3 separate regions of the Homo sapiens genome follow, and regions 2 and 3 are each linked to region 1. The links come from fine-mapping of genetic effects on gene expression. A gene starts in region 1. Each other region holds a variant in brackets. All regions are shown on one strand. Distances are from middle to middle. Region 1 holds the start of SYNGR1 (synaptogyrin 1). Region 2 overlaps SYNGR1 (synaptogyrin 1). Region 3 overlaps LOC100506472 (a long non-coding RNA gene).

What was found. PIP is the estimated chance that this variant, and not a neighbour inherited with it, causes the effect. A credible set is the group of variants that fine-mapping cannot tell apart.
Region 2: its variant is the best candidate, but not a certain one, in a credible set for the expression of SYNGR1 in whole blood (INTERVAL, PIP 0.85).
Region 3: its variant is the best candidate, but not a certain one, in a credible set for the expression of SYNGR1 in whole blood (TOPMed, PIP 0.87).

The regions. Positions count from the first base shown.
Region 1 is chr22:39,347,820-39,354,261 of GRCh38, forward strand. SYNGR1 (synaptogyrin 1) reads left to right here and starts at 2,172. Exons shown (of 4, transcript NM_004711.5): 1 at 2,172-2,290. The coding sequence starts at 2,192. RefSeq lists a silencer at 2,219-2,378 and an enhancer at 3,602-3,651.
Region 2 is chr22:39,368,821-39,376,414 of GRCh38, forward strand. It overlaps SYNGR1 (synaptogyrin 1), which reads left to right. Exons shown (of 4, transcript NM_004711.5): 2 at 5,496-5,733; 3 at 7,232-7,377. Among named protein-coding and RNA genes, the nearest start is that of SYNGR1, 23 kb to the left of the region's middle. RefSeq lists an enhancer at 5,094-5,609. The variant G/A (reference allele first, on the strand shown) is at 3,459.
Region 3 is chr22:39,436,186-39,443,779 of GRCh38, forward strand. It overlaps LOC100506472 (a long non-coding RNA gene), which reads left to right. Exons shown (of 4, transcript NR_040535.1): 4 at 1-943. It also overlaps a transcript of TAB1 not described here. Among named protein-coding and RNA genes, the nearest start is that of MGAT3, 17 kb to the right of the region's middle. The variant C/T (reference allele first, on the strand shown) is at 4,061.

The sequences.
Region 1 (6,442 bases):
GTCTCGTTCTGTCGCCCAGGCTGGAGTGCAGTGGCGCGATCTCGGCTCACTGCAAGCTCCGCCTCCCGGGTTCACGCCATTCTCCTGCTTCAGCCTCCCGAGTAGCTGGGACTACAGCCACTACACCCGGCTAATTTTTTTTTTTTTTTTTTTGTATTTTTACTAGAGATGAGGTTTCACCGTGTTAGCCAGGATGGTCTCAATCTCCTGACCTCATGATCTGCCCGTCTCGGCCTCCCAAAGTGCTGGGATTATAGGCGTGAGCCACCGCGGATGCTGGGCATCTTTTTATGTGCTGAGTTGCCGTGTGTATATCTTCTTTGGTGAGGTGTATAACTATTCAAATCTTTTGCCCATTTTTTAAAAAGTGGGTCCTCTTATTATTATTGAGTTCGAACGTTCTTTATTTGGGATGCAAGTTCTTTAGATCTATGCTTTGCAAATATTTTCTCCCAGACTATCGTTTGTCTTTTCATACATTCTTTTAACAATGTCTTTTAAAGAACAGAAGTTCTTAATTTTGATAAAGTCCAGTTTATCAATTGTTTCTTTTATGAATCATGTTCTTCATGATTTTTTTTTTTTTTTTTTTTTTTTGAGACGGAGTCTCGCTCTGTTGCCAGGCTGGAGTGCTGTGGCGCGATCTCGGCTCACTGCAACCTCCACCTCCTGGGTTCAAGTGATTCTCCTGCCTCAGCCTCCCAAGTAGCTGGGACTACAGGAGCTCGCCACCACGCCCGGCTAATTTTTGTATTTTTAGTAGAGACCGGGTTCACCATGTTGGCCAGGATGGTCTCAATCACTTGACCTTGTGATCCATCCACCTTGGCCTCCCAAGGTGCTGGGATTACAGGCGTGAACCACTGCGCCCGGCCTTCTCTTGTGCTTTCTTCTAAAAGTTTTATATAGTCATAGTAGACACCTTATAAGTGTGCTGGATTAAATGTGAAAATGTATGTAAAGCCCTTAGCACAAGGCCTGGTAGAGACTAAACAATCAGCTGAGCCTAAGATGGACATTGACTATGTAATTTTTATAAGGAGCACCCTCAGGCCCAGCACACATTTCCTCCACACAGATGTTGTGTCCTGTCATCACAGAATGGCAGGATACCAGAGAAGCAAAAGCCTCCACCCATATCCTCATCCAACCTGCTCCTGGAACCAGTGAAGGTGACTGCAGACATAGAGAGGCCATAGAGCTACAGGGCAGCAGGAGAGCCAGCCCTGGAAGGTGGCCCTTCCCCTGCAGGGAGCACTCCTCCATCTAGCCTCCGTTTCCATGAAACCTGGAGGTCTAGCCCAAGCTGTGATGGGGTGATGGGGACTAGGCTCTGTTTACTGAGCACCTACTGTATGCTAGGCCCTTGGGTAAGGCATTGAATAAGTTAGACAACACCTGGGCCTCGGGAGCTCACAGACTAGCAGCAGAAGAGGCCATGAACAAATGATTGCGTAATTAATTGCTAGATTCAGGAAAGGGGCAACGTTCTGGGGTAGGAGGGGATGGGGAAGAGGAAGTCTCAGCCGCCGCCTCTGTGCCAGGCCCCTCCAGGCTGGGGGTGGGAGGGTGCGCGGGCACAGGGACACACATGACGTCATCGTAAGAGGCAGGGGAAGGGTGGTCCTGGGAGGTGGGGGCTGCTCTGGAGGGCTGTAAGAGAGGGTCATTCACTCGTGGTTCATTCATTCGAGAAATATTCATGCGGCGCCTACTGCGTACCAAGCACCCTCTAAGAAGGACGAACACAGCTCCTGCCCTCTCATTATATTTGGGGCCGACAAAGTGGCAGGAAACAGCCAAACAAATCAAGCGTGAAGATGGTTTCAGCAGAGCCGACGGCTCAGAGGGGCTGCGACCGGGGCAGGGGACCGGGGATGCGGGGCAGGGACACGGCCCACACTTGCTGTGCACGCACCGCCCTCCCCCAAACACTTTGCAAAGAGGTCACCGCACTGGCTGCGAGCGCGCCCTGAGCCCCGGGCCGCAGCACGCGCGCCCCCGCGCCCGAGGTCGCGCGCTGCCCAGCCCCCCGCCCGCGCCCCGCGAGCTGCGCCCGCCGCGCACGACGCCCCCTCGCGGGAGCCCTGGGCCGCCGGCCGCGCGCGCAGGGGAGGGGGCGGGGGCGCCGCGCACGCGCACGGGCCGGCGGCGCGCGCCGAGCGGGGGGCACCGCGCGGGTGCAGCCACGATGGAAGGGGGTGCGTACGGAGCGGGCAAAGCCGGGGGCGCCTTCGACCCCTACACCCTGGTCCGGCAGCCGCACACCATCCTGCGCGTCGTGTCTTGGGTAAGGACGGACTGGCCGACGGCTCTGCCAGGCCGGGGTGGTGGGGGTGTGAGCAAAGGCGGCGCGCCCGGACCGACCCCGACCCCGACCCCAACGGGCCCCCGGCGGCGGCGCGGCGGCGGGCGAGGAGCTGTCCTGCCTGCGGGGCCCGCTGCCGCCGCTCCTCCTTCCCGGGCCCGGGGCGGGCGGGATCCCTGGTGCTCGCGGGAGACGCCGCTCCGGCTCCCGGAGCCCTGGTTTCCTGGGGCCCCCGGTTCGTGCGCCCCCCTTCCCGCCCCGATTGCTGTGACCTCCAGGCCGCGGCTATGCCGCGAAAGGCTCGGATTGTGCGCGGCCGCCAGGGCGGACTGGGGACCGTGGGGACGGAGCCAGGGTTTAAGGTGGCCTTTTTTGGGGGGTGGATCAGGGCGTGGACCATCTCGGTGGGGTGCATGCCGCGCCTGCGATGGACGTTGGAGGAGGAGAGGGCCGGGAACCGGGTTCGTATTGCCTAGCCCGGCCCGTGTGGAGCGATGAGTCGGGAACTGAGTACCTCTCTTCCACCCGGGAACTGCCTCTCCTTCTCTGCGTGACCTTGGGCTGGGAGCCACCCAGGAAATGTTCTCGAGAAATGAGGACTTCAATTCCGAGGTGGGGAGTGTCATCTCCTCTCTCATGCCTCAGTTTCCCAATTTATAGACAAGGTGGGCGGAGCCTTCTTGAGGCCCCCTTGGGCTCTGACATTTCATGAACCGGTAACACCCCTCCCACTCAGCATGCACCTGGATGCCCAAGGCGGGTGTCTGGGAGAAAGGTCTGCTCCCACAGTGAAGAGGCCAGGGTGGCCTCCAGCCTAGCTGGGGGGCAGGGTCCTCAGTGCAGAGGGCTGAGTGGGCTCTTGTTCAGACGGGTGGTCAGGGAGAGGATGGGTCAGAGACAGTGAGCACAGAGGGAGGGGTTCAGGTGCCTTGAGTGGCACCTCATGGAAAGAAGCCCTGCTGGGGTCTGGAGAGGGGGTTTCTGGGGCTCCCTGGGTTTGGCTGGCTGTATCCCAGAAACTCCCACTCGAGGTTCTGGCCTCTGCAGGCCTGGGGCCCGTTCCTTGTGGGCTTAGACTAGGAATGGGCTAGACTGTCAGGGACCCCAGGGGCTACCCCAAGGCCAGCTGTGACCTCAGGGTGCCCAAGCTTCCTCCTTTCCTTGGTTTTCAGGGTCTGGTTGGTAGGATGGCTTGGGTATGTATCCCTGGTCTGCGAAGGATGACCCCATTTAAAGCCTTTTCTTCTCAAATGCCGTCAGATGGGAGCTGTTTGAGGGCAGGAAAGCCCAGTTCCTTTAACCCTTGTGTCGGTGCCTGCACAGAGCCGGGCACCCCAGCACATCTGTGTTTGTGGCTCTGAATTCATTTATCTGTGCCAGTCTCCTGCTCCCCAGATGCCCCAACAGACCCTTGCCAAAGGTGGGAGCCCTGGGGGGCACCTGCCGGATCAGGCGGGTGGGCTGCGTTCACTGCTTTAGTCTGCCCACCCCTGGGCCTCTGGCCTGGAAGGGCGAAGCCACTGGCTTTGTGAGGGGGCTTGTCTGCTTGGGTCATTTCTGCCTCTGATGCCTTCATTTAGCAAAGCTTTATTGAATCTGCTGGGCCCCAAGGGAAGGCAGCGTGACTCAGAAGCAGCCCTTGTTCTCGGGAAGCCACAGTCCCACTGGGGAGTGAGCCAGGTGCCCCCAGGCAGAGGCCGCAAGAGCCAGGAGAGGGGTCTCCCTGCTGTGGAATCAAATTTCATGGTGAAGGTGATGTCAGATTGGGCCTGGTGGGATGAGGGTTTATACATATGCACATCCAGGGGAGAGGACGTGGAAAGCAGGAGGAAGGATCAGCCCCTCTGAGCACCCATGGGGTGCAAGACCACACACAGCTACCTAGCTGGTTCCCCAACACTAGAGGAAGCTGCGGCTCAGCGAGCGAGGCCAAGTGCCTGGCCCAAAGTCACTAAGCATGTAAGTGGCAGACGAGCATTTGAGCCTAGGTCTTCCTGTCTCCAAAGAGTAGTTCTCCCCCTGGGGCAGGGAAGAATCCAGAATCCTGGAATGTCAGGATTGGAAAGGACACAAAGGTCACCTGGACCAACCAATGCTCAAACGACCCCACAGCCTCCCAGTCCTGCTCACACACGTGGATACAAGGCGCTCACTACCTTTGTCGAACCAAGAGGTGTCTGATACAGGCTGATTGACACCTTTAAAAGTAGCTTTTTTTCCTGATCAGAGTAATACCTGCCAATTATTGGAAAGTATAAAAATCACATGTGATGGTTGCACGGTAGGAATGTACTTAACACCACTGAAATGGTGAAGATGGTAAATTGTATGTTACGTGTGTTTTACCACAACAGAAAAAGTTTGGTGGGGGGTGGTAATCATGTGATACCACCACTTAGGGAGGGCTGCAGTGAATAGGGTGCTGTCTCCTTCTGGTCTTTTCGAAACTGTGTGGCGTGCTGAGCCATTTAAACACATCAGGAGCTGCGGGGGATGCAGCTGGCGCCTGCTCTTGGCCCTCACACCACAGGGCAGAGCAAGTGAAGCTGAGCTCCAGGACCAGGGTGACCCGTTTATCCTGGTGTGCTGGAACTTCCTGCCTTTAGCATTCTGAGAGGCCCTTAGTCCAGACAAACAGGGACAATTTGTCACCCTGTCCAGGACTCCTGGACAACCCAGACCCCTACCACAGCCCTGGAGGGGCCCTAACAGCATGTGCACATGAACCTGTGATTGTTTTTTTTCTTTTTTTGAGATGGAGTCTTGCTCTGTTGCCCAGGCTGGAGTACAATGGTGCCATCTCGGCTCATTGCAACCTCCGCCTCCCAGGTTCAAGCAACTCTACTGCCTCGGCCTCCCAAGTAGCTGGGACTACAGGCACACACCACCACGCCCAGCTAATTTTTGTATTTTTAGTAGAGATGGGGTTTCACCATGTTAGCCAGGCTGGTCTCGAACTCCTGACCTCAGGTGATCCACCTGCCTTGGCCTCCCAACGTGCTGGGATTACAGGCGTGAGCCACCGCACCCGGCCTGGACCTGGGATTTTTGTAAAATTTGTAAAAGAAAGATTTTTTTTTCTGTTGCTTTTCCAAAAGAGGGCCCCCAAATCATGTAAGCTTCAGGGCCTCACCAACCTGGACCCACCCTGGAACCCAAGCCCTCTGAGCCCCTGGGTCAGCCTGCACAGAAGCAGGGCCTCCAAGACCTGGCTTGTCTCTTTTTTATTTTTTTAGAGACAGGATCTTGCTGTGTTGCCCAGGCTGGTCTCAGACTCCTGGACTCAAGTGATCCTCCCACCTCAGCCTTGTGAGCAGCTGGGACGATGAGGCGAGGCGTGGGCCACTGCATCCGGCATGGCTTGTCTCTTGACTAAGGCTTTCTCACCTCTTGGTGTCATCGCCCCAGTGGCAGATCAGCTGCCACTCCTGGCACCCCCAGGCCACAGCTGTGACCTTCAGTAAGTGTCCCCTCCCCACCCTCTGTGCCTCAGTCTTCCCACCCGAACTGGGCTGGGCTGGGTCAGAAGTGCCTGATCTGTTGCGCGGTGACTGCCGCCTGTCAGTGACTCATTTCTTTGTTCTAAAGCCAGATGGGAAAAAAAGGAGTTACAGCAAGAAGCTAAACTGATTTAATAGAAAGGACCACCTTTTATTTGGAGTTTATATTCTTTTTTGCAGGGGGCTAAGATGGACTATAGGGAATGAATATCAGTGCTGGCAGATGAGTTTTTTGTTTGTTTGTTTTTTGTTTTTGAGATGGAGTCTCGCTCTGTCTCCAGGCTAGAGTGCAGTGGCGCGATCTTGGCTCACTGCAACCTCTGCCTCCTGGTTTCAAGTGATTCTCCTGCCTCAGCCTCCCAAATAGCTGGGATTACAGGCACCCACCACCATGCCCAGCTACTTTTTAAATTTTTAGTAGAGACGGGGTTTCACCATCTTGGCCAGGCTGGTCTCAAACTCCTGACCTAGTGATCCACCCGCCTCAGCCTCCCAAAGTGCTGGGATTACAGGTGTGAGCCACCGTGCCCAGTCAATGTTTCTTTAATTCTCTACTTTGACAAAATGAAAATGATAAAATGTTTGAAATGTTGCCATTTTCAGGGTTCATTTTTTAAGGGCTTTGGCCATAATA
Region 2 (7,594 bases), 22 kb after region 1:
TGTCTGTTAGTAAGTGTTCGAGAGGGGCCTTCCTGGTGTTATTCCTCTTTTCTGGGGCCTTGAGAGAGGAAATGAACGTTATGCAGCCCCTATGGGGCTTCCAAAGCTCTGCTCTGGGTACTTGCTCTAATTCTCCCATCTGCCCCAGAGGGGATGTTAATTTTTACAGAGGACCAATCTGAGGCTCGGAGAGGTTAAGTCACTTGCCTGAGGCTACCCAGCATAAGCAGCAGGCCTTGGATTTGAATTGGCGGGTCTGTATGATTCCTCAGTGTCTGAAGTCTCTTTCTGATCAGGAGCCTTTTCTGTTCTGGTTTGGTGGCATCTGGTGACATCCAGGACTGGGCCTCAGGTTCCCAACCTGACAGTTTTCTGGTAGGAGCCTTGGACTTGTTGCAGTACACCAGTGCAAGGGGTTGTGTGACTAGCAGTCCCTGGAGTTGTGCAGTCCACGGCCCAAGCAGCTGGCCGTGTACTGCACATCTCCCAGTGTTCAGAGTCTGCCTTGCTTGTCTTGGTTTGTCAGTAGCTCAGGAGCCCCTTTGACAATGGCTCTGTCCTGACTTCACAGGCGCTCCCCACTGTGCCTCTGAGCACCAGACTTGAGACTGAATCGAGTCGCCTGATCCCCAGTCACACTGAAGCTACCCTCCCGGCCTTCCTCCCTGCTGGTCCTCTGCCTGATCCCTTGGGTCTCTGGGAGTAAATTCCATCCCTTCTTCAGGGCCCACCTCCAGAGGCTGAGAGTCAGCTTGGCCAGGTGGAAAAGAACACAGGTCTGGGAATCAGGAGACCTGGGTTCAACTTCAGCCTGTGCTGCTGACAACAGTGCCACCTTCTCTTTCTGAGCCTTAGTTTTTCTACTCTGCCAATTGGGAACACTACAAATAGCCCTCTCCACTCTAGGGGTGATGGTGAGGCTGCAGAGCCTGTGGGAGGCAGAGCTGTGGGCCCCGATGCCCTCACGGGTCTGAAGTCTCATGGTCATGGGGTTTTCCCAAATCAGGACTGGCAAATGGTGGCTCACGGGCCACCACTGCCCACCTCTGTGCCCATGGCTGAACCATGGGCTGAACACAGCTTCAGAATCCTTTCTTTTTTTTACTGTGGCCAGATTAGCCTAACATACCATTTTAATGTTGTATAATTCAGTGTACATTTTTTTCTTTTTTATAATTTGTAATTTATTTATTGTAGAGATGGGGTTTTGCTGTGTTGCCCAGGCTGGTCTCAAACTCCCAGGCTCAAGCAATCCTCCCACCTCAGTCCCCCAAGTAGCTGGGACCACAGGTGCATGCCACCATACTCAGCTAATTTTTGTTTTGTTTTGTTTTGAGACGGATCTCTGTCGCCCAGGCTGGAGTGCAGTGGCGAATCTCGGCTCACTGCAACCTCTACCTCCCAGGTTCAAGCAATTCTCCTGCCTCAGCCTCCTGAGTAGCTGGGACCACAGGCACGTGCCACCACGCCCAGCTAATTTTCTTTATTTTTAGTGGAGATGGGGTTTCACCGTGTTAGCCAGGATGGTCTCAATCTCCTGACCTCATGATCCACCCGCCTCGGCCTCCCAAAGTACTGGGATTACAGGTGTGAGCCACCGCGCCTGGCCTATACCCAGCTAATTTTGGTATTTTTTGTAGAGATGCGGTTTTACAATGTTGCCCACGCTGGTTGTTCCTTTTTATGGCTGAAAAATTGTCCAATTTATGAATGTACCACACTTTGTGTCCCCATTCATCTGCTGTGCACATTTAGGTCAGAATCCCCCTTAACACACAACATCCTAACCCAGAGGTCTCTAACCATTTTTTTTTTTTTTTGAGACAATGTCCCGCTCTGTCGGCTGGAGTGCAGTGACACAATCTCAGCTCACGGCAACCTCCACCTCCCAGGTTCAAGCCATTCTCCTGTCACAGGCTTCCGAGTAGCTGGGATTACAGTTGTGTGCCACCACGCCCAGCTAATTTTTTGTATTTTTAGTATAGAGACAGGGTTTCACCGTGTTGGCCAGGCTAGTCTCGAACTCCTGACCTCAAGTGATCTACCCATCTTGGTCTCCCAAAGTGCTGGGATTACAGGCATGAACCACCGCACCTGGCCGGTCTCTAAACTTTTAATCGTGCTCCTTTCAGGAAAAATGTTTGCACCAATCCTCCCATTCAATGTAGATTTATTGGTTTCATATATGCTACTACTGTACTAATATATCCTGTGCATTATAAAATCCATGTAAACTATAGACATCTTACAGAGATAAGATAATATTAAGAATGCTTCTCATATTTTTCACATACCTGTCCTGGAATCATTACCCATCCTGGGCATCACCCAGGAAGAAAATATGCTCAACTCACATTGAAATTGTAGTTTCTGAGGCCGGGCGTGGTGGCTGACTCCTATAATCCCAGCACTTTGGGAGGCCGAGGTGGGCAGATCACCTGAGGTCGGGAGTTTGAGACCAGCCTGACCAACATGGAGGAACCCCATCTATACTAAAAATACAAAATTAGCCGGATGTGGTGGCGCATGCCTGTAATCCCAGCTACTCGGGAGGCTGAGGCAGGAGAATCGCTTGAACCCAGGAGGCAGAGGTTGTGGTGGACTGAGATTGCACCATTGCACTCCAGCCTGGGCAACAAGAGCGAAAGTCCATCTCAAAAAAAAAAAAAAAAGAAATTATAGTTTCTGGCCGGGCATGGTGGCTCACGCCCGTAATCCCAGCACTTTGGGAGGCTTGGGGCTGGTGGATCACTGGAGGTTAGGAGTTTGAAACCAGCCTGACAAACATGACGAAACTCCATCTCTACTAAAAATACAAAAAATTAACCAGGTATCGTGGCAAACGCCTATAGTCCCGGCTACTCAGGAGGCTGAGGCTGGTCTTGAACTCCTGGACTCAAGTGATCCTCCTTTCTCAGCCTCCTAAAGTGCTGGGATTACACACGTGAGACACCATGCCCAGCCAAAAAGCGTGAACTTTAGAGTCAGGTACCCTGGGTTTGAAGCCAGGTTCTGTCACTGACCAGTTGTGTGACTTTGGGTGTGTTAACAATAGCTGAGCCTTAACTGTCTTATCTGCAAAATGCTGATGGTGCAGGATGTATTGGCAAGCTATTGCTGCACAACAAATTGCCCTACAACATAAGGCTTATAACAAGAAATATTTGTTATCTGACAGTTTCTGTGGGTGAGGAATCTGCTAAGCTTGGTGCCACTGCCTCAGGGTCTCTCACAAGGCTATAATCACAGCATCAGGTAGGGCTGTGGTTTCATCTGAAGGCTCAACTGAGGGTAGATCCATTCTTTTTTTTTTTTTTTTTTTTTTTTTGAGACGGAGTCTCACTCTGTTGCCTAAGCTGGAGTGCAGTGGGGTTGATCTTGGCACACTGCAACCTCCACCTCCTGGGTTCAAGCGATTCTCCTGCTTCAGCCTCCAAAGTAGCTGGGACCACAGGCAC[G/A]TGCCACCACACCCAGCTAATGTTTTGTATTTTTAGTAGAGACAGGATTTCACCATGTTAACCAGGATGGTCTTGATCTCCTGACCTCGTGATTTGCTCACCTCAGCCTCCCAAAGTGCTGGGATTATAGGCATGAGCCACCATGCACCACGCCCAGCTCTTTTTTTTTTTTTTTTTTTTTTTTTTTTTTGAGACGGAGTTTCTCTCTGTCACCCAGGCTGGAATGCAATAGCACAATCTCGGCTCACTGCAACCTCCGCCCAGGCCCAGCAAACAGTTCTCCTGGGCTCAAGCAATTCTCCTGCCTCAGCCTCCCAAGTTGCTGGATGACAGGCATGTGCTACCACACCTGGCTACTTTTTGTATTTTTAGTAGAGACAGGGTTTCTCCATGTTGGCTAGGCTGGTCCCGAACTCCTGACCTCAGGTGATCCACCCACCTCGGCCTCCCAAAGTGCTGGGATTACAGGCGTGAGCCACTGTGCCTGGCCTGGGTGGATCCATTCTTAAGCTCACTGACATGGTATTGGCAGGATTCAATTACTTGTGGGTGTTGGACTGAGGGGCTCAGTTCCCTGTGGGCAGTTGGCTAAAGACCCTCAGTTCCTTGCCATGCAGTCTTTCCAAAGGGTAGTCCAAAACACAACAGCTTTCATCAGAGCAACCAGGGAGTGGGGGAGAAGAGGACGAGCAAGATGGAGGCAGAAATCCTTTGTCACTTACTCCCAGAAGTGATATCCCATCACTTCTTGCCATATCCTGTAGTGGGGTCAGTGAGATAGCATGTGTAATATACCCTTGGGATCATGCAGGGTGCCCTGTATCTGGCAGGATTGTGTCTATTGTTATTTTCTATTTAATACACACACACACACACACACACACACACATAGATAGATTTTTTTTTTTTTGAGAGTGTCTTGCTCTGTTGCCCAGGCTAGAGTGCAGTGGCTTAATCTTGGCTCACTGCAACCTCCACCTCCCAGGTTCAAGTGATTCTCCTGCCTCAGCCTCCCGAGTAGCTGGGATTACAGGCATCCGCCACCATGCCCAGCTAATTTTTGTATTTTAGTAAAGACGGGGTTTCACCATGTTGGCCAGGCTGGTCTCAAACTCCTGACCTCGTGATCCACCCGCCTCTGCCTCCCAAAGTGCTGGGATTACAGGCGTGAGCGACCACGCCTGGCCCGAGAGTTTTTTGTTTTGCTTTGTTTTGTTTTTTTGAGACAGAGCCTCTCTCTGTCACCCAGGCTGGAGTGCAGTGGCATGATCACGGTTCACTACAACCTCCACCTCCTGGGCTCAAGAGATCCTCCCCCTCATCTTCCCTGGTACCTGAGACTACAGGCACGCACCACCATACCTGGGTAATTTTTTTATTTTTTAGTAGGGGCGGGGTTTTGCCATGTTGCCCAGGCTGGTCTCCAACTGCTGAGCTCAAGTGATCCTCCTACCTTGGCCTCCCAAAGTGCTGGGATTACAGGCATGAGCCACCACCCCCAGCCCACTGTTATTTTTTCATTCATCACTCCATCTACTTGCCAGGCCTGGGTAGGGGCCTGAGACCCCAGACCAGCCCACAGCTCTGCAGAGGGAAGGAGAACACAAGATGGGGCCCGGCACATGCCAGCATCTGGAGGAGTCAGCCTGGGGGTGGGGGCTGGGCAGGTCCACAGCCCAGGAGGGCCTGTGGCTCCTTGTTCTTTGAGAGTCGGTCCAGTCCCAGGATATCTTGGTGTCAGGGCCCAGGAAGACCTTTAGGACCTGGCTGAGGGGTGTTGGAAGGGGCCACATCTATGGTCAGAGAGTCCTCAGTGCCTGTGGCTGAGGAAGGAAGTGATTGACCCCCACCTGGTGCTATGTGACCCACATAAGTTACCCTCCCTCTCTGGGGATCCCCCTCTGAAATGCCTGCTTAACCCGGGTCTTGTAGCTCACGGAGGGCCAGGCAGCAGGCGAGGGTGGCAGCCTCCCCGTCCCCTGGGTGGTGTGAGGCAGGGGTCTGCCCAGGTCTAAGGTGTGGCCCCACCCCCGACAGCTGTTCTCCATAGTGGTGTTCGGCTCCATCGTGAACGAGGGCTACCTCAACAGCGCCTCCGAGGGGGAGGAGTTCTGCATCTACAACCGCAACCCCAACGCCTGCAGCTATGGCGTGGCCGTGGGCGTGCTCGCCTTCCTCACCTGCCTGCTGTACCTGGCCCTGGACGTGTACTTCCCGCAGATCAGCAGCGTCAAGGACCGCAAGAAAGCCGTCCTGTCCGACATCGGTGTCTCGGGTGAGCCCCACCCAGCAGGTACCCCCTGCACAGAGTCTACAGAGGGCTGTCCCGGCCATAGGAGGCGGCTGCCACCCTTCTTCCCATGTTTCAGATGAGGAAATGAGGTGCAGGCGGGTGAAGGGATGGACTCAGGGTCACATGGCTGGCAGCAGGAAGGATGGGACCAGGACAGGGCCTGGGACCCCAAAATAACCCATGCTGCCCACAGGCAGGGGAGCGTGGATGGGATTCTAGTTCCTTCTAGTCTAAGGGACCCATGGATGGCACTGGGCATGTGCCAGCCCCCATGGGTTGGCCCGTGTTTCAGTGGCCTCTTCTGTGCCACCTCCCTGGGGCAGCCTCATGAGGACTAAGCAAGGCGGTGACTGGGTGCCCAGTGCACAGCAGGGGCCCTGGAGCCTCAGCCTCCCCACGCCTCCCAGCCAGACCTTGGCAGGACCAGGGCCTGGACCTGTGGAGCCAACCTGACCTGCTGCCCTTTGCCCTTCAGAAGCAGCCTTTGGCAGAGGCACCCTGACCTCTGCTCCGTGACTTCCAGGAATCTGATTGGTGGATGCTCTCAGTCAGGGGTCCGAACCCGAGGCTTCAGCCTCGCTGTTCTGAGGCTTGGGTCCCCGGACTGGGACCAACCCCTAGTTCTAAGCCTGGAGCTCTCAGGATAAGCCAGGCTGAAGGCAGGTCATGAGGTCTAGTTTTAGAAGGAACTAGAACTAAATGAATGGTTCTCAAACTTCCACAGAGCCTCAGGGTTCCCTGGCAGTGCCTCTGGGAGGTGGGCTGGGCCCCAGGTGGGCACCCCACCTGCTTGGCAGATGCACGCCTTGTCCTGAGCAGGTCTGGGCTTCTCTGGGGAGACCTTGGCACTCACAGGAGATTGCGTGGCTATGAGGCTCCCACTGCTGACGCCCCCAGGCTCGGCTCTCAGTGGGCCCCTCGCTAAACCTGGGGCTCTGTGGGGTCGCAGCACGTTAGAAGTCGAAGCCCAGACCCACCCAGCCAAGCTGCCATCCTTGCCCCAGCCTCGTCCTCCTTCCCATACCTCATTTGTCTGGCAGCCTGAGGGTTGGGGTCTTCCTGCCTGCAGAGTTGCAGGCATCAGGGGTGGACCGGGGGGGCCCACGTCAGCGGTGTGGCTGGACATGGGGGTTTGGCAGAGGCTGCAGAAATGCGGCCTGAGTTGATTACCTTCTTTCTCTGTCTCTCCCTCCATCCTCCCCTCTCACTGCCCGTGGCTCTCCTCTGACTGGCCCTGACCCTGCCCTGTCTGTGGCCTCCTCCCCCCTGCATCTGGCTGGCTTCCCTCTTCTCGCCTGCATCTTCTCTTGGCTCCCCTCTCTCTTCCCCTACCCCCTTTGCCTGTCCCTTTGGGGGTGGGGGAGCATGGGAGATGCACTCTTGAATGTCCCTCTGTTCCTCGGCTTCCCCATTTTCTCCCCACTCACCCTCTCCCCCATGTGTGGCACTGCCTATTCTGCCCGGTCCTGGGACCCCCCAGCCTTCTGGGCTTTCCTCTGGTTCGTGGGATTCTGCTACCTGGCCAACCAGTGGCAGGTCTCCAAGCCCAAGGACAACCCACTGAACGAAGGGACGGACGCAGCCCGGGCCGCCATCGCCTTCTCCTTTTTCTCCATCTTCACCTGGGTGAGTACAGCCACCGCGCACCAGCCCACACTCGTCCCCTTTCCCCACTGAGCCCCTGGATGGGTGGCCTTTCGCTAGCCTGGGACCCGCTCTGCCTCTGGGAGCCCACACTACCCTCGCTCCCTCTTCTGCCTGCCTGTCTGCGGCGCTCACAGTGGTGCTGCCTCCCTCAGCAAGGAGGCTACAGCCCTCGGGGGTAGCATGGTCACTGGAGATG
Region 3 (7,594 bases), 89 kb after region 1:
AGGAGGCTGAGGCAGGAGAATCACTTGCACCCTGGAGGCGGAGGTTGCAGTGAGTGGAGATTGTGCCACTATACTCCAGCCTGGGCAACAGAGCGAGACTCCGTCTCAAAAAAAAGAAAAAAAAAAAGGAGTTCTAACTACGTTCCAGGTATGTAGCTGACGTGTAATATCTCATTTAACCTGGCAAAGAGTTGGTATCCGTGGCCTCAGAGAGGTTTAGAAAGTTGCCCAAGATCACACAGGAGCAAAGATTTAAACTCTGGACTTTTCTTCATGTGTCATGAAGTTTCCTCCTGATTTTCAGAGACCCTTCCAGGCCTGCAAGCGATTTGACAGCCATCCCTCAGTGCCAACTAAACCTCCTGGGCAGCCTGACCCCAGGGTAGGAAGGAAGCGCCTACACCAAGGGGCCCTCTGGGAGCTGAGATCATCCTGGGGTTTTGTCGCCTGGTCTGACTTGTGCACTGGGATCTTCTCGTGCCAGGCCAGGCCCCGCCCCCTCCCCGGGACTGGGCAGACCCCCTCCCTCATGCATCTGTGTCCACTGAGGCTTCCCTCACCTAGAATGGCCCATCCTTCAGGACCCAGCTCACTCTCATCTTCTTTCCAGGGACTTATCCCCCAAGGCTGTCCTCTGTTCTGGTGAGCTCAGGGCTCTTGGAACTTGGTCTGCAGTGACTCTGGGGTTCCTGGTTAGGACCCATGTTCTCTAGGTCCCAGCACCCTGCACGGGGCAGTGTTTGTGACACTGGGCCCAGCTATTCTGAGAGAAGGACTCCAACCTTCCATCAGGTGTGGCCCGAGATGTGGGTGGCCCTGGGCATGGGGCATGGATGCATTGTGACTTTCATGGGCCTCTTCTGCAAAAAAAAAATTAAAATTATACTTTATGACTATTGGTAGAAAGATAAATATATTAATACATTAAAATTTCTCTTTGAGTAAAAGTTCATTTTCTTCTGTTTTAAAGGTAAAATATTTCCACAGCCCCCTGAAAGGATGGTGGGCCCAAGGGTTCATGCCTGCTGCACCTCATCAGGAGGGTGGCTGTGAGTCGGGGGGACCAGCGGGGCCTAAATCAGCCTCTTCAGTGCGGTGGCCTGCAGCTAACGTCCCCATCCCAGCCTTCCTGAACTTTCAACCACCCTGGGGCCTCAGACCCAGGAATAAGATTCGAGAACCGGTAGGGGGAGCTGAGGTGGGAGAATCGCTTGAGCCTGGGAGGCGGAGCTGCAGTGAGCCGAGATCGTGCCACTGCACTCCAGCCTGGGTGACAGAGTGAGACCCTGTCTCCAAAAATCCAAGAAACTTTCAAGAACAGGTGGAAAGAAATCCGGAGATGACAGAGAGGGATGTCCCCTCCCACTCTGCTCCTTTCCTCCGAGCCTTTGCCATGGCTGTGTTGGCTTCCTGGTGTGCCCTCCCTTTACCTCTAGCCAGCAACAAAGCCTGCCGGGCACCAGGCACCAGGTGTGCCGCCAAGTAGGGGCTGAGGCTGGCAGGGTGGGGAGAGGGGAGGCCGTCAGAAAGTCTCTGTTAATACTCCGGCCCTGCAGGGGCTCAGTCTCTGCGGAAGATAAAACTACACCTGGAAGTCTGGCCAAAACGGCCAGAATGGGCCCTGAGACCCAGGCCAAGGGGAGACCCCTTCTGTCTGATGAGTTCCGGAACCTTCCCAGAGCAGGTGGGCTCTGCACCGGGCCCTGGAATGCTCCTGAGGGGTCTGGGCTTCCTGGGACTGACTGCCAGGCTCCTCCTGTGCTGGCAGCTTTGCTAAAGATGACGGGCTAAACACATTCGTCCACTTTCCCTCCCTTCTCAAACCCCCTTAAAACAACAGGGAGGGATTTCTCCCTCCCTCTGCTCCCGCCATCCATCCCTCCCTCCCTTCCTTCTTCGTTCCCTCCATTCCTCCTTCCCCCTTCCCTCCCTCCTCACTCCCTCCCTTCCTCCCTTCCCCCTTCCCTCCCTTCCTTCCTCCTTCCCTCCATCCCTTCCTCCTTTCCTCCCTCCCTTCCCACTCCCTCCTTCCTTCCCTTCTCCCTCCCTCCCTTCCTCCTTCCTTCCCTCCCTTCTCCCTCCCTCCCTCCCTTCTTTCCTCCTTCTTTCCCTCCCTCCTTCCCTCCCTCTCCCCTCCTCCCTCCCTCCCTTCCTTCCTTCCAGGTATAAACCCACAAGGTTGTAGCAATCAGGAGACAACATCCACACAGGTTTTGAAGCTGAAAAGTCGATGTAGAGTGGCAACTGACTTAAGGGACACAGAAGTTACATCCCAGGTGTGTGATGGCAGCTGAATACCAGTGTGGTTTACCCTGAAGAACCACCGAAAGCTCAGCGTGAGCCAGCAGTCCCAGGTGGGGGCAAAATGAGGCGCAGTCAGGTCCCCCGGTCTCCCACCCAGAATGGCCAGGCAGTCCCGTCCTCCGCTCACCAGAGTCCACCCAGAGATAGCGGCACTGCCACAGCACTGGAAGCAGAGCAGTCGGGTGCTTCTGGGCACTGGGACCCCATTTGCCCTGCCCAGCTCCCAGCACACAGCCCAGTCTTCACCCTCCAGCAGGACACTGAGGCTCCTCGCTGGAGAATCTGACGCACAACAAAGTCCTGAAAATACTGACATGGGGGGTCCCTAACAAGTACCCCCCACCTCCCTTCAGTGAAATCAAGAGTCTGTGTATCTAGAACTTACTTTCTTTTTTTTTGTTTTTGTTTTTGAGATTGGGTCTCGCTCTGTTGCCCAGGCTAGAGCGTAGTGATTCAATCTTGGCTCACTGCAACCTCCGCCTCCCAGATTCAAGTGATTCTCCTGCCTCAGCCTCCCGAGTAGCTGGGATTACAGCCACCACCACACCCAGCTAATTTTTGTATTTTACTAGAGACGAGGTTTCACCATGTTGGCCAGACTGGTCTTGAACTCCTGACCTCAATTGATCCACCCGCCTTGGCCTCCCAACCCACCTCAGCTTCCCAAAGTGCTGGGATTACAAGCATGAGCCACCATGCCCAGCTGTATCTAGAACTTTTGATAAGCAAAGTGAATGTTAAAAGATAGAAGGAACCAGCCATTACCATATGAGCCAGCAATTCCACTCCCAGGAAACACAAACATACAGAAACAGTACGGAAGTGTTCACGGCAGCATTACTCATCATAGCCGAATGTCACAAGCAACCTAGATATCCATCCGAAGAGGAGAAGCAGACTGTGCTGCCTCCACGCCACGGAATAGTATTCAGCCGTGAAAAGGAATGACACTGACAGGCCACCACAAGGAAGAGCCTCAAAATCACTGTGCTAATGAGAGAAGCTGGTCACAAGAGGTCACATGTATGATTCCTCCTACAGATGCCGGTGATAGGCAAATCCATAGAGACAGAAAGCAGGGCTGGGGGAAGGAGGAAACTGCAGAGACTGGTAACAGAGCCAGCGTGTTTTTCTGGGGTGAGGTGTTGGTGAATGCATTGAGTGCCACTGACCTGCAGTTTTCAAGCGGTTAATTGTATGCTATGTGAATTTCACCCCAGTGAAATTGAGGAACCAGCCCAAGGCTTCCTCTGCTTGGAAGGAAGAACTCTAGGTGGCTCCTCTGGACTCACAAAGCACCTGAATTGGTCCTCTAGGATGAAGAGTCCAGAGAGAGAGTGTGAGCCTCACGTGCCGTTGTATTATTTCATTTCATTCCACCTTATTTTATTTTATTTTTAAGACAGAGTCTCACTCTGTCACCCAGGCTGGAGTGCAGTGGTGTGATCACTACTCACTGCAGCCTCCACCTCCTAGACTAAAACGATCCTCCCACTGCAGCCTCCCAAATAGCTGGGACCACAGGCATGCAGCACCACACCCGGCTAATTTTTTGTATTTTTCAGTACAGTCGGGGTGTTGCCATGTTCCGCCTGCCTCCCAAAGTGCTGGGATTACAGGCATGAGCCACTGCTCCTGGCCCATGTGCCATTTTATTTATTTATTTACTTAGAGATGGAATTTCGCTCTTGTTGCCCAGGCTGGAGTGCAATGGCATGATCTCGGCTCACTGCAACCTCCGCCTCCCAGGTTCAAG[C/T]GATTCTCCTGCCTCAGTCTCCCTAGTAGCTGGGATTACAGGTGCCCGCCACCACGCCCAGCTAATTTTTTGTATTTTTAGTAGAGACGGGGTTTCACTATCGTGGCCAGGTTGGTCTCCAACTCCTGACCTCAGGCGATCCACCCACCTCAGCCTCCCAAAGTGCTGGGATTACAGGCATGAGCCACTGCTCCTGGCCCATATGCCATTTTAGATGTTCTAATAATCACATTTGAAAAAGTAAAAAGGGGCAGGTGGATCGCTTGAGTCCAGGAGTTTGAGACCAGCCTGAGCAACATGGTGAAACTTCGTCTCTACTGAAAAATACACAAAAATTAGCCAGAGGTGGTGGCACACATCTGTGGTCCCAGCTACTCAGGAGGCTGAGGTGGGAGGATCATCTGAGCCTGGGAAGTCGAGGCTGCAGTGGGCCATGATCATGCCACTGCACTCCAGCCTGAGCGACGGGGGTAAAACCTTTTCTCAAAATCCAGCTGTATTTTACCCGTACAGAATAATTCTGTGCAGGCCAGCATGATCTGGGCTTCATGGCTATGGCTCGAGGTCACACCAATGGATGGTCCAGTTCTAGACTGTTTCAGACTGGAGGCTCTGTATACTCTGAAGAGGATGAGAGTTTTAAATTATAGTGCATTTTAAGTCTATGAATTAAAAACAAATAGGCAGCTGGGTGTGGTGGCTCACACCTGTAATCCCAGCACTGGGAGGCTGAGGTTGGTGGATCACCTGACGTCGGGAATTTGAGACCAGCCTGGCCAACAGGGTGAAACCCCATCTCTACTTAAAATACAAAAAAATTACTCAAAAAAAAAAAATTAGCTGGGTGTGATGGTGGGTGTCTGTAATCCCAGCTACCTGGGAGGCTGAGGCAGGAGAATTCGCTTGAACCCGGGAGGCAGAGGTTGCTGTGAGCCGAGGTCATGCCATTGCACTCCAGCCTGAGCAACAAGAGCAAGATTCCATCTCAAAAAACAAACAAACAAAAAAACCCAAATAGGCTATAATCCTCTTTAGGATCATCTGAATAACCACCTTAAAAATTAGTCTTGAGCAACCATAAAAAAGAATGAGATCACGTCATTTGCAGGGACATGGATGCAGCTGGAGGCCGTTCTCCTTAGCAAACTAACACAGGAATAGAAAACCAAATACTGCATGTTCTCATAAATGGAAGCTAAATGATGAGGACACACAAACACACAGAGGGGAACAACACACTGGGACCTTTCAGAAGGTGGAGGGTGGGAGGAAGGAGAGGATCAGGAAAAATAACTAATGGGTACTAGGCTGAGTGATGAATTAATCTTCACAACAAACCCCGATGACACACACTGACCTATGTAACAAACCTGCACATGTACCCATCAACTTAAAAGTTTAAGCTGGGCTCAGTGCCTCACAACTATAATCCCAGCATTTTGGGAGGCTGAGGCGGGTAGATTGCTTGAATCCAGGAGTTTGAGACCAGCTTGGCTCAGATGGCAAAACCCCATCTCAGGCCAGGCGCATGGCTCACGCCTGTAATCCCAGCACTTTGGGAGGCCGAAGTGGGCAGATCACGAGGTCAGGAGTTCAAGACCAGCCTAGGCAACATAGTGAAACCCCGTTTCTACTAAAAATACAAAAATTAGCCGGGCGTGGTGGTGGGTGCCTGTAGGCCCAGCTACTCGAGAGGCTGAGACAGGAGAATCACCTAAACCCAGGAGGCGGAGGTTGCAGTGAGCCGAAATCATGCCACTGCACTCCAGCCTGGGCAACAGAGCGAGACTCCATCTCAAAAAAAAAAAAAAAAAAAAGTGGGGGCGAGGCTGGGCACAGTGGCTCACGCCTGTAATCCCAGCACTTTGGGAGGCCAAGGCGGGCGGATCACCTGAGGTCAGGAGTTCGAAACCAGCCTGGCCAACATGGTGAAACCCCATCTCTACTGAAAAAAACAAAAAACAAAAATACAAAAATTAGCCGGGTATGGGTGTGCGCCTGAAATCCCGGCTACTTGGGGGGCTGAGGCAGAAGAATCACTTGAACCCGGCAGGTGGAGGTTTCAGTGAGCTGAAATTGTGCCACTGCACTCCAGCCTGGGCGACAGAGCGAGACTCTGTCTAAAAAATCCCCCAAAAAACCGTCTCTACCCAAAACACAAAAAAATTAGCCATGTGTGGTGGCACGTGCCTATGGTCCTAGCTACTCTGGAGGCTGAGGTGGGAGGATCACTTGAGCCCAGGAGGTGGAGATTTCAGTGAGCCAAGATCATGCCACTGCACTCCAGCCTGCGGAACAGAGCGAGACCCTGTCTCAAAAAAAAAAAAAAAAAAAAAAAAGATTAAACATTAGTTCTGAATTAAACATTGAATTACCATACGACTCAGTAATTCCACTTCTGTGTATACACCCAGAAGAACTGAAAGCAAAGTCTCAGATGCTCGTGTGGCAATGTTGGTAGCAATATTGTATACATCAGCCAAAAGGTGGAGGCAACTCATCAATGGATGAGATGTCCATGGATAAACAAAATGCGTTCTATCCATACAATGAAATATTATTCAGCCTTAAAAAAAAAAGAAATTCTGACACATGCTACAATGTAGATGAATCTTAAGCACATTATGCTAAGTAAAATGAGGCAGTCACAAAAGGACAAATACTATACGGTCTCACTCAGACGAGGCACTTATGGTAGTCAAATTCAGAGACAGAAAGTAGAATGGGATTGACAGATGCTGGGGGGCAGGGGAATGGGGAGTTAATATTTAATGGGTGCAGAGTTTCAGTTTTGCAAGATGAAAATCCTGCTGGGCCAGGCTGGCTTGGTGGCTCACGCCTGTAATCCCAGTGCTTTGGAAAGCCAAGGTGAGTGGATCACCTGAGGTCAGGAGTTCCAGACCAGTCTGGCCAACATGGCAAAACCCTGTCTCTACTAAAAATACAAAAATTAGTCGGGCATGGTGGCTTACACCTGTAATCTGAGCTACTCAGGTGGCTGAGGCACAAGAATCGTTTGAACCCGGGAGGCAGAGGTTGCAGCGAGCCGAGATCATGCCACTGCACTCCACCCTGGGCGACAGAGCGAGACTCTGTCTCAAAAAAAAAGCATTCTGGAGATGGACGGTGGTGATGGTACCATACAAGGTGAATGTACCTAATGCCACCACACTGTGTGCTAAAAACTGGTTAAAGTGGTAAATTTTGTGTTACGTAGATTTTACCACATTTTTCTTTTTTAAAGTTTGGCTACCCAGTGGATTTGTGCTGACCAGGGCATTGAGACTTCATAGTCACTGGAGCTAATGAGAAAAGATGCGGGGAGACTTTGGCCAGGTGTCGTCCAGGCACTGCCTCAGCCAGGCCTCCCAGGCTGGGTAGGCGTGAACAGAGGATCCTGCAGGGAGGAGCAAGGCCTTGCTTGGCCTCCACACTGGTCAAAGCCACCCGGCCCCAGAGAATCAGCCCCTCATTGGGCACCTCGATTGCTGACTGCCCTGTCTGTGGTGAGAGCCAGCAAGATTTCTTCCTGTT